Linked DNA regions of Homo sapiens: all the other regions are linked to region 2. Evidence: fine-mapped QTL for protein levels in blood plasma. A gene starts in region 2. Each other region holds a variant in brackets. All regions are shown on one strand. Distances are from middle to middle.

Region 1 (2,908 bases), 11 kb before region 2:
AACAAGACATAGAGAAATATTTGAGGACAGCAGGCCAGTGTGGATACCAATGGGTGCATCTCAAAGCTGTAGCTACAAGAGAAAATTGAATGATCTCCACATCATCCCAACGCACACTTTTGGGTCAGGATTTTCCCCAAACGCTTTCTCCACTGCACCACCCTGACTCACAGTAAGAACTTCTTTTGACACCGTGGTCTAAAAGACTGAGGCTGTGACCATGAGAAAATTACTTAATCTCTCTCAGCAGATTTCCTCATAAGCAAAATGAGCATGTAATACCTACCTCTTAGGGATGTTATGAAAAGAAAATCAATCTAAGCGCCTATAACAAGGCCTAGCACAGGGTAAATGCTCAGTAAATATTGGCAATTACTGCATTTTTTTTTTTTTACCACTTCCATTTTTCTTGGTTTCCTCTGCTTCTGTCAATCTGGATAAAATAATGAATGACTACAGAGTTGCATATATTATTGACTCCTCTTTATTTCGTAGAGCTAACTGTATTCTCAAGATATTGGAAGTCTGTTTTTAAACTATAAAATATCTCAGCTACTAGATTCCTAGAAAAATGTTTCTTCTCCAAATTGCATGGAATTTTCTTCCTTGCATGTCACTATTCTTCAAAGCATTTAGCATTTTGGAGTGTTCCTTCTTTTTCCTTGCAAAGCCAACAATCACAGCTGACCAGGACTTCAATTCTTCAATTGATTCACGCAGGATAAAATGACCTGCCTGTGACTTGACGTTTTATTTTAAACAGCTTGTGGTTGTGATAGAACAAGAGGCCCAGACCAAAAAGGACTAGGAATGCTTGCTCAGGTGCCAGTACCATCGGCAGGTCAGGAAACACTCCCATCCCACTGCCATGTGATTTCCTATGAAACAGCGATTTCCCTGAACACCAGAGCAAACTATGCGATGATAATGCTCCAAGCAGATGTTTGGAGAAGATGTGGGTTTTCACAGCTTATGCTGTGATCAATATAATAATGGTCCATGCCTTTCACTTGCCCTATCAAGGCCTTGAGTGGCAGCGATGATCTTGAGTAACTTTGCCTCACCTCAAGGAAATAGCACTGGTTGGAGAACTTGAGAAAAGGGCCCAAATAGTTTACCAGAAACTGGGACTTTCTCATTTCCTGAGAGGTTTTTGAGATTTGGTAATATGGCAAATTTTCTAGTGACAGAGGTTTGGAATACTTTTTCCTATTTTCTTAAGGAATGACAGTGTTTTCAGTTTTGAAACAGACTAACCCAAGGAAGAGAGATTCTTGTGCTAAGCACATACCAGCTACCTACTTCTCAAACCCATTCCTAAATTTGAATACTTTCAGTGAGGCTGGGCTCTCCTAGGTGGTACCTGGACAATGTTCTATAACCTGAGTATTGGGGAGCCACGGCTTTTGGCCCATTTCAGGGCAATACCAGGAGCAGGAGAAGCCACCATAGGGAATACTGAGACCACAATAATTATGTGTTCACAAGGCAGTGAAACTGGCGACTTATAACTAATTTATTGGCAACCACTTTCTAAATAAAATATCCAAGTACCTGTCAACAGAAATTAGTTAACAGGAAGCTAACCACTGAGTCTGTAGATTGAACAGTGTATTTTACAAAGAGTGTGTTAACCTAAGTTATGTTAACTTAAAAACAAATCTTGAGAATTGAGGAAGAATAAGGGATAAACTGGGATAAACTGGGATCTTTCTTTTTTTTTTTTTTTTGAGATGGAGTCTCGCTCTGTCGCCCAGGCTGGAGTGCAGTGGCGTGATCTCGGCTCAGTGCAACCTC[C/T]GCCTCCTAGGTTCAAGCGATTCTCCTGCCTCAGCCTCCCGAGTAGCTGGGACTATAGGTGTGTGCCACCACGCCCAGCTAATTTTCACATTTTTAGTAGAGACAAGGTTTCACCATGTTGTCCAGGATGGTCTTGATCTCTTGACCTCGTGATCTGTCCGCCTCAGCTTCCCAAAGTGCTGGATTACAGGCGTGAGCCACAGCGCCTGGCCGGAATCTTCTATAACTTCCCCAAAACATCACACTTGCCAGACATTAGTTGATAAAGTAAAAGATTACAGAGGAAATAATGTAATTGGTTTTTGAATTTTATATAAAATAACCATGACAAGAGAATATCCTGGGAGCATTCCATTCAAACATCAAAATTATCTCTCGCTTAAGACAAAAGGTGGCTACCCTGAATGAATTTTGGTATTCATGCTGGATTACATATGTGTATATGTGTGTGTGTGTGTGTAAGAGTGAGAGAAACTATAATAATCTGTTGGTATGTTGGTACTTGGTCCTTGGAAACTTCTCTCCAAGGTCTCATATTTGTAGAAGTAATATTAGCTTATTATTTGACAGAAAAAACAATTTGCCTATCTTGGAAATTCTGCTTAGTAGCTACGAGCCCTGGAATTTTTCCATCTCTCTCTGTAGATCAACATACCATACTTTCCTTCACAGAGAGGTAAAGTCTACCTCCCTAATGACTTGTAAAAACTGACTGATAAGGAAAAAGTGGCCCGGCTCAGTGGCTCATGCCTGTAATCCCAGCACTTTGAGAGGCCAAGGTGGGCGGATCTCCCGAGGTCAGGAGTTCAAGACCAACCTGGCCAAAACGGTGAAACCCTGTCTCTACTAAAAACACAAAAATTAGCCAGGTGTGGTGGTGCATGCCTGTAATCTCAGCTATTTGGGAGGCTGAGGCAGGAGAATCACTTGAACCCAGGAGAGAGAGGTTGCAGTGAGCCGAGATTGTGCCATTGCACTTAAGCCTGGGCGACAGAGTGAGACTCCATCTCAAAAAAAAAAAAAAAAAAAACGAAAAGAAAAGAAAAAGGCATTTCTATCCTATGCAGTCCTCTCAGGGAGCAGCCAAGTAGAGAAAATGGGGGAAAGATCA
Region 2 (4,245 bases):
CTTTGTGCCCACTCACTCTTTGTTCCCATTCCCTCTTTCCCAAGTATTTCATGGCATTCTTCCGGGAATAACTGTTTACAGAGAATTACAGAGAATCTGCTTAAATACAGATTCAATAAAAACTCCTAAAGAAAGGTTTCACTGACCTTCATTGGTCCACTTTTTTATCCAGCTACTTTAATTTGAGTCACAGTGACCAATGCTTCCAACAATAACTTGACAAACCTCTTACTCTTGCCTGCTTATAACCTGATTATCTGTTTTCAACAATAGCTAAAGCCATTCCTCTTTTCCTGGAATGATTTTTTCCATCCTCTCTGCCAAACGATAGTTCATCTCCACATTACTAGAGTGCCTCATGTCCTGTTACTAACATCGTACCACTCCATGGAGTCATAGAACAAGAGTGGGAGGGGCCTCTGAGACTCTGTCCACCCCTCATATTAAAGAAGAGCCAACTGAGGAACAGAGAAAGAGACATGTATTGCCCAAGGAACTCATTGCATTCGCCGGCCTGGAAGCTTTCCAATGCACCACACAATTTTTTTTTTTTTTTTTTTTAAGACGGAGTCTTGCTCTGTCACCCAGGCTAGAGTGCAGTGACGCAATCTCTGTTCACTGTAACCTCCGCCTCCCAGGTTCAAGAGAGTCTCCTGTCTCAGCCTCCCGAGTAGCTGGGGTTACAGGTGCTCACCACCGTGCCCGGCTAATTTTTGTATTTTTAGTAGAGACGAGGTTTCACCATCTTGGCCAGGCTGGTCTCGAACTCCTGATCTTGTGATGCACCCACCTCGGCCTCCCAAAGTGCTGGGATTACAGGCATGAGCCACCGTGCCGGGCCCACACAACTTTTATATTCCATACTAGTACTTTCTAGACAATCAGAGCTAACTTTAAAGGGGCCACTGAAAGTTGCTGTTCGAAGGAAACCTACATTGACTATTACCATAAATTCAAAAATTATTTTACTCTGCTTGTCATCAGTAAAAGAATTGCTTGAATTGAAGCGTATGTAATAAACCTATCCTCTTGCAAAACTTGTTAGTGGCTCTGTGGTTAAGTAAGTCTTGAATACCTGAGGCTGCTTCTGGGAAGGTGGTCCTGTGCCACAGATAATGATGTCCCTTGGGTTTCTACTGATTACATTATGACTTGATTATAAGATTTTTACTGTCACGAGGGAGGGTCTTGGCTCATCTGAGATTTCCCTAGCCCCCTGAGTGGTGCTGAAATTGTTTTAATAAAGATGTTGCGCTTTACTCATGTGCTGCTATTAGCATTTGACGTGCTGTCTCAGAGCGAGAAAACGGAGGATCCCAACCTTCCAGTAGGAAGGCTTAGAGAAGAGGCTGTTGGCAAGTGTCTCTAAGAATTGCACAACACTGGCTGAGGGTGGGTTAAGGGTGAGGAGGCAGAGGAGAGTAAACAGAAAACACCGATCCCCAAATGTTAGTTACGCTTGCAAAAAACTAAGGCCTGCTTCAAAAAGCTGGTGATTAGCCTGAATAACTAGCAAAGCTTTCTTAGTTGTGGGCAAGTGCAGGCCTCCTAGGGCTTCCCTTAGGTTCGGCGATTCTGTGGTCCCCCTCCAAGCCTACTAATCAATAGAAGCTGGCATCTGTGCCCAGCTGCGCAAAGTAAACCTGAGTGGGAATGTAAAGTCGTTAACTCATACAAATACGGGACTTTCACGTCCCTCCCCATTCCTCCCTCTCCAGCCCCGTCCCGCAAACTCCTCCCCAAGGAGTCCCAAGCTGCCTCTACTAGGAAAGGACTCCCCGGCCTAAACGCCCCTTATGAAGCTACCAGAGAGGAGGAGGAGGAGCAGGAGTGTGAACCTACCTCGGCCTCAGAACAAGTCCGCAGAAACGGGCAGGACAATGGAAAGAAGTTTTGTTTCTCACCCGCTTCTTCCTCCCTAGTACGATGATGGGGAGCCGGTAGAAAACGCAAAGATGTTCTTTTGAATCCTGCTTTGCATCTAGGTGGGGTTGGCGTCCTTGTGTGAGTGTGTGTACACGGACGGAGATGGGGGCGTGGTGAGGTGTGGAGGGTCGGCGTGCCAGCCTCTGCGTAGTTGGGACCGCGCCCCGCTTCTCCGAGGAGGCCCCTCCCGCCTGGATCCGCCCTTGGAGCTGGCGCCGCAGCAGCACCCGCCCCAGGGGCCGCAGGGGCAGCCCAGGCAAAGAACGAGCCTGGGATCCGCGCTCCTTCCTCAGCTGGACCCCAACGGGCAGCAGCCGCGAGAGCACTGCCTCCACGGAGAGCAGATGGCGGGAAACTGGCTTCTGCTCCCAATTGCCAGGCGGCCCTTCAGAGACTACCCCTGGCTGAGCGTCCAGGAACCCATGAAACTTGGTCTTGACACTGGTCGACAGCACCATCTGCCACGTACTTATTCGCTGCTGCTTTCTTTGGCAGGACAGCCCATCGCGAGACAGTTTGTGTTTCAAATTTAACGGAGACTTTTTTTCAGTAGTTGACAAAAGGGGGTGGAAAAACAGTAGCCACGAGGGCTCGTCCGGGATTTGAACCCGGGACCTCTCGCACCCAAAGCGAGAATCATACCCCTAGACCAACGAGCCACTGTAGCTGAGTGGTGCTTCCTATCACTCTGAATTTCTCTTTTCCGCCTGCTGTTCTGAAGGTTTTTTGTTTTGTTTCTTTTCCTCTGTTGTGACATTTCCCTTAGGCCTTATTTAGTTATTCCTTCCATCTTCACCAAGTTTCAAGTGTGGCTTATTCTCTGGCTTATTCTCCTCGATCCAGATGCAGGATGGGGTGAAGGAAGGCAGCTTTTTAGACTTTAGGTCACATGCTTGTGTCTCACTGAGCCCGGGGAGCGATTTAAGCCCGCTAGGGCCTGGAGGGAACCTGGAGGGGGCTGAAATAGAGATCGAGGGCCAGAGCTGAGCTCGGTTGCAAGGCTGTAGGGTACTGAGCCCCAGGACAGACGCGCGATACGTATATATCTGCCGGCCTTTGGACTTAACGTAGAAGCCAAAATATAACACACTTCGGTAAGACAACAGTGCCTTCCCCCAACGGTGGGACGATTCGGGTCTACTATCTTTCAGAAAGGTAACCAACTTTTCAAGACGCGATTAACGCAGCCCACCTCGCGGCTAAGCTGTTTCCTTCGGACAAGGGTGAGAGACAGAAACAGATTTGATCACGTCAAGATACAGAGATTTTTTGCACAAACGAAGAGCAACCGTAAACCCCAAAACAGCAGCGTCTCCTTCGAGCCGGAATCGAACCAGCGACCTAAGGATGACCACACATTAAGTACTACAGTCCTCCGCTCTACCAGCTGAGCTATCGAAGGAAGCACGGAAACAACTCTCCTAAAAATCCCTACTCGAGACATCCTTAACCAGAGACGGGAAAGAAAGAAATCTCTTTATACCCGGAAAGTAATTACTGCAGAGTCACAAAGCCAGCTTGTAAGACAGTCCTGCGTCCGAGGTTCTGAGGACAACCTTTCTAAATCTGGATTCCCCTGCCTCACTGAGGGGCTCCCAAGCAGAGCAGGCGCCCCTGAAACTCGGGCATACCGAGGCTGCTCATCCTCTGGGCGCCCGAGGGCTGTTGGCCTCACTGGGCGCGGACCCAGGGGCCTCGCGAGCGTGGATGCGTGTGTTTGTGTGTAGGGTGGGGACCGGCACCTGGGCGTCGGAGAACTGGGGGCTGAGGCGGTGGGACGCACACAATTCTGACTGCGCAACTGTGAACGCCGGAGAGGGCGGGCCTCCAGGCTTAGGCCCGGGCTCCCTGATGTCCTCACTTCCTGCGCTTCCCTCCCAATCTCGGCTCTTCCGCTTACACGTCCACAGACACGGGAGGGAGAGGGTGTGGAATGGAGCAGTGGTCCCCAACATTTTTGGCACTAGGGACCGGTTTCGTGGAAGACAGTTTTTCCACGGACCGCGGGGGCGGGGGGAAGAGTTGGGGGATGGTTTCGGGATGAAACTGTTCCACCTCAGATCATCAGGCATCACTTAGATTCTCATAAGGAGTGCAGTTTAGATCCCTGGCATGCGCAGTTCCCAATAGGGTTCGCGCTCCTGTGAGATTCTAATGCCACCACTGATCTCACAGGAGGCGGAGCTCAGGCGGTACTGGTAGCTAGCCCGGAGTTCACCTCCTGCTGTACAGCCGGGTCCCTAACAGGCCATGGACAGGTGCGCGGCCCAAGGGTTGGGAACCCCTGAAATAGAGGACATCTGGGCAAACCCAATGTTT
Region 3 (4,245 bases), 15 kb before region 2:
GCCTGGATGTCAGGCACCTCAGACTATTTCCCCATTTTTCGACAAAAATCATCTAGATCTTGTAAGATGGAGAAATCAAAAGTGCCGTTTTCTGGCCATTTGGAACCATTGTTGGGTTTGTATTAGGGCCAAACGGTATTGCAGAAGAAAATAAGGCATTTAGGTTTTAGGTCAGGTGTGAGTTGAAGAGGTTTTAAGTTCTTGAGAACACAGGCTAAGGGAGAAGAAGGGGGAATGCAGGGTGGAAGGTTGCCCACAGTGAAGAAGTAAGTTTAAAGAGAAAGGTAGAGACACAGCAAAGGGGGTGGTGAGCAGCCCTGGGCTATAACGTGGACGATCAGCCAAAGCAGGCATCCCGCGATTGACTTGCCATCAAGGGAATGTGGGTGAATGACCATGGCAGGTGTCCCCACAGTGATCAGACACCAATGGAATGTGGGTGAATGATCAGGGCAGGCATCCCCACAATGATCAGACGCCAAGGGAAGACTATCTTCCCGAGTCCGTGACTGGTGTCTGAGTTTTGGGTCCATGGATAAAATGCGTCTCCTTTGTCTCTACTAGAGAGGAAAGAGAACTGGAATTGGAAGGACAGGGAGATTGAAGGGTAGCAAGAGAGGCTGGAGAAGACAGTGAAAAGACCGCTTACCCAATTTGAAATGGGTGAGATGTTCCTTGGGCTGGTTGGTCTGAGGACCTGAGGTCATAGGTGGACCTCCTCATGGAGTGAAGGCGAGGACAGGGGACCAGTCTCCTGAAGGAGTCCCCCTGTTCTGGGTCTTCGGCACTAAATGCCACACGCGTCCATGTGAAGAGACCACCAAACAGGCTTTGTGTGAGCAATAAAGCTTTTTAATCACCTGGGTGCAGGCAGACTGAGTCCAAAAAAGGAGTCAGCAAAGGGAGATGGGGTGGGGCAGTTTTATAGGATTTGGGTTGGTAGTGGGAAATTACGGTCAAAGTGGGTTATTCTCTAGCGGGCAGGGGCGGGGGTCACAAGGTGCTCTGGTGGGGAGCTCCTGAGTCTAATTGTCCAGGAGAAGGAATGTCACAAGGCTAATTGATCAGTTAAGGTGGGGCAGGAACAAATCACAGTGGTGGAATGTCATCAGTTAAGGCAGGAATTGGTTATTTTCACTTCTTTTGTGGTTCTTCAGTTGCTTCAGGCCATCTGGATGTATACGTGCAGGCTTGGGCTCAGAGACCTGACAGCTCCCTAATTTGCTTCTAAATATTCTAAGGGAGAAGGAAGAGCTGTGAGAATTGTCTTTGAGAGGAATCATTCTCTCTGGAGTAAATGAGACAAATCTTCTGTGTTGTGGTCATGGATCTGATAGGCATTAGTCTTTGACCAGAGTTTATGAGGTTATTAAGGTGCATGCATGTTTATAAACTAAACAAGAATTTAAAAGTCAGAGAAAAAAAATAATACCATAGCACAGTCTTCTCAGGTACCTTCGGTTTAGGTCCTTTATTACAAGGAAAACATAAAAAATCTTTCAATCAGTAAGAGCACATAAGTCTTAATGATCTAGTACATTTTTTAGTACTTTGACTTACTAGGGTGATTCAAAGTTTCAGGAAAAAGAAAATTCCCAGTATCATTTTCTTAATCTTATTAAACCCAAACATAAGAATGCCAAAAAATACAGAGCTCACATTTTGCTGGCATACATTTCCAAATTTTTAATGCCTCCCTGACAGGTGAATTTTAAGGATAAAAAAAGCAGACACTTTCAAAACATTCCTTGTGATGAAGTAGAAAAAGCCCTGGATAAGTGGCCAGCTACACTGGATTTTTGTCTCAATTCTTCCATTAACTTTACAGTCTTCAGCAAATCCCTTAACTTTGAGCTTCTATATGTAGTGACATCATTATAAGTGCTGTGGTATTAAAATGTGATAAACATAGATGAAAGCATTTTGAAATGTTTGAAATACTACATAAATACACATAATAACTAAATTCCACAGGATAGGATCTGAGAGAGCTAAGCTGACCAGTATTATAAAAGGAAGCTTATTACAGAAAAGCCCAGCCTCATTCATTACAGGTTTATGTCTCCATATCTCTTTGGTGCAATGTATTTAATAGAATGAGTTATATAGAGAAAAAGAGTAGGAAATGAGCTGAGGAGACAGAGCCTGGGACAGCTCAAATGCATTACTCACTGCTATTTAAGGAGTAAGTGTAAGGTCAACCACTCGCGATAATCCCTACATGGTGGCATCTAACCGTCAAAGTGCACAGGCACCTGTGGGTTACCCTCACAGGCAATGACAACACGTCTAGTGCTCGCTATGGCCCGATATCTGCAGTTGGGTGCCCTGGAACTTCCTGTGTCCCTGCAATCTGTGACCTTCACTACACCCTCATGGCAGTTCATCTTGCCGTTCTTGCATTGGATATTGGTGGTGCTGCAGATACTACGAATGTTCCAGATATCTTCATGGATGAAGGTGTTGAAGCGCTTGCAGTGATACAAAGTCATCTTCCGTCTTTGCATCATCAAGTTGCAGTAGCGATCACTGCCACCTGTCTCCTCAGGGTGCACGTGTTGCC[G/A]CAGGAATCGCTGGTACATGCCATCCTGGCCATAGGAGGGCTGGACCAGCCCCAGCCCCAGCAGGGTCAGCAGCAAAAGCAGAAGCAATGAATGGGTCCTCTGCAGAGCCATCAGTATCTTAGAGGTGCCTAGAAAAGAAAGCAAGGGGCAGGAGAAATAAGGTAAGAACTGGGCACTGGAAAAAGGTGTTGAGAATAGCAAGCCGGCATCCTGACTCCATAGTCTCCTCTTTCCTCCTTCTTATATGCACCATCTCCCCACTCATCTCTGCTACTTTTCCCACCCTTCTTCCTCAAGAGTGAGTAGTTTGCAAACATGATCTTTTCTGAAAGCAAGACCTTTCTCATTTACAGAGAGAAGTTGCTGTGGCCAGTACAATGACACAGGGCAGGGACTGACTGCGTGGCTGCCAGGTTTGTGTGGACAGAGTATAAAAAGAGAGAAAAGGTGAACCTACATGAAACTGCAGTTGTGTGTCTCTTGGGGGAACTCCGTAGGTGTATGATCTTTGGGGAGTGTTTGGTTCCCGGGAGGCTCCAATTCCCGACAGTTTGGATAGACTCAGCATACGTCACAGAAAGTTTACAAACTACTTTTAATACCTTACATCTGGGAATCTAGGTGGAGGAAGAGGACAGAGGAATATTTAGGCTTTGCCTTTCCTCTCACATGACTATTGTTTTTCTTTGTCATTAATTTTATTATTTTTCTTTTCTTTTTTGTCATGTGGCTATTATTCTAATGTGATTTAAAATCTATTCTAATTCTAGAATAATATATGTTATACATTAATTTAAAATGTATTATTCTAATTCTAATGTAAAATCAGGTCCTTTTGGAAATCCTTTTAATTCTATTTTTTAAAAAAAAGCAAAACCAGAATACCCAGTTACAGTTCTTAGAAGACAGTTGATAATAGCTACTGTTTGAATGAACTAATAAGTGAAATGAGTAAGCTAATGAACAAATGCAATTAAATGGATAGAGTAAAGATGTTTCCCAGGCTTATGAAATTGACTAATAAGAAAAGCTAAGAAATGTTTAAAAAATAAATTTAAACAGCACAATATTCTCAAAAGAAAACTTGGATTGTGTCTTCTTCTCCTTGCTGTTTCTATGCATAACCTAAAAAATCTAGGCCATGGAGATACATTGCTTTGTCTTGCATCTATTCTTGATGTTCCTTCTGTCTTGTCAATAGTTGTTGGTAGCTGTCTGTCTTCTCTGGTTGCAGCATCATTGTGTTGTCACCTCTTGGCAGTGAAAAATAGGCATATATTTTATAGCATTAAAAAAAAAAGCCAGAGTGGCAACAAAAAAAGCATTGCCATGTAGTTTCAGAACATTCATTGCTTTCATTGACAGATTAAAGAAAGGAATCCAGGCCTATCTTAGTCTACACCCTGTGCTCTTTCCACTATCTACTGCCTCTCTCATCCCACACCCAAAATATTCAGGATATCAAAGACATTTATGCTCAGAATTGCTACTTCCCAGCAGCAGAGTTTAATCAAGACTGGAGGTGGACTCACTCACCAACTGACTAGCCAGATGCTGCCATCTGGCCGTCACTCCTGGAATTGATGTGAATTGTGAATCGGCTTGATTCTTGCAGTGTAGCAGGGCTGATTCACTACAGCAAAGAAAAATCATCCCTGATTCAATAGGAAGTGAGCAACGC

Which allele goes with the higher level. Positions count from the first base shown, and alleles are read on the strand shown. Strength reflects both the effect of a copy and how common the allele is.
With allele T in place of C in region 1, the plasma level of the protein whose gene starts at base 2,041 in region 2 is higher (moderate association).
For the plasma level of the protein whose gene starts at base 2,041 in region 2, A is the low allele of the variant in region 3 and G is the other (strong association).

The links. PIP is the chance, under the fine-mapping model, that this variant and not a neighbour inherited with it causes the effect. Protein levels are from antibody-based Olink assays in UK Biobank. Linkage for the fine-mapping came from a reference panel and not from the study's own genotypes, which makes the PIPs less certain.
Region 1: its variant is fine-mapped to the plasma level of the RNASE4 protein (UK Biobank, PIP above 0.99).
Region 3: its variant is fine-mapped to the plasma level of the RNASE4 protein (UK Biobank, PIP above 0.99). The variant lies in the coding sequence of RNASE4. If it changes the protein, the assay may bind it differently, which can mimic a change of level.

The regions. Positions count from the first base shown.
Region 1 is chr14:20,694,217-20,697,124 of GRCh38, reverse strand. The region is part of intron 1 of RNASE4 (ribonuclease A family member 4); the gene reads right to left. The region is part of intron 3 of EGILA (EGFR interacting lncRNA); the gene reads left to right. Among named protein-coding and RNA genes, the nearest start is that of ANG, 6.9 kb to the right of the region's middle. The variant C/T (reference allele first, on the strand shown) is at 1,798.
Region 2 is chr14:20,682,356-20,686,600 of GRCh38, reverse strand. RNASE4 (ribonuclease A family member 4) reads right to left here and starts at 2,041. Exons shown (of 2, transcript NM_002937.5): 1 at 1,843-2,041. It overlaps TRY-GTA5-5 (tRNA-Tyr (anticodon GTA) 5-5), which reads right to left and starts at 3,328; the gene lies at 3,240-3,328. It overlaps TRP-TGG3-2 (tRNA-Pro (anticodon TGG) 3-2), which reads right to left and starts at 2,585; the gene lies at 2,514-2,585. It also overlaps a transcript of ANG not described here. RefSeq lists enhancers at 1,750-1,889, 2,690-2,819, 2,960-3,149, 3,350-3,659 and silencers at 2,120-2,239, 2,510-2,559.
Region 3 is chr14:20,697,802-20,702,046 of GRCh38, reverse strand. It overlaps RNASE4 (ribonuclease A family member 4), which reads right to left. Exons shown (of 2, transcript NM_002937.5): 2 at 831-2,692. The coding sequence starts at 2,675. The coding sequence ends at 2,232. It overlaps EGILA (EGFR interacting lncRNA), which reads left to right. Exons shown (of 4, transcript NR_174964.1): 2 at 2,549-2,725; 3 at 2,918-3,011. Among named protein-coding and RNA genes, the nearest start is that of EGILA, 7.0 kb to the left of the region's middle. RefSeq lists a silencer at 2,231-2,396. The variant G/A (reference allele first, on the strand shown) is at 2,564.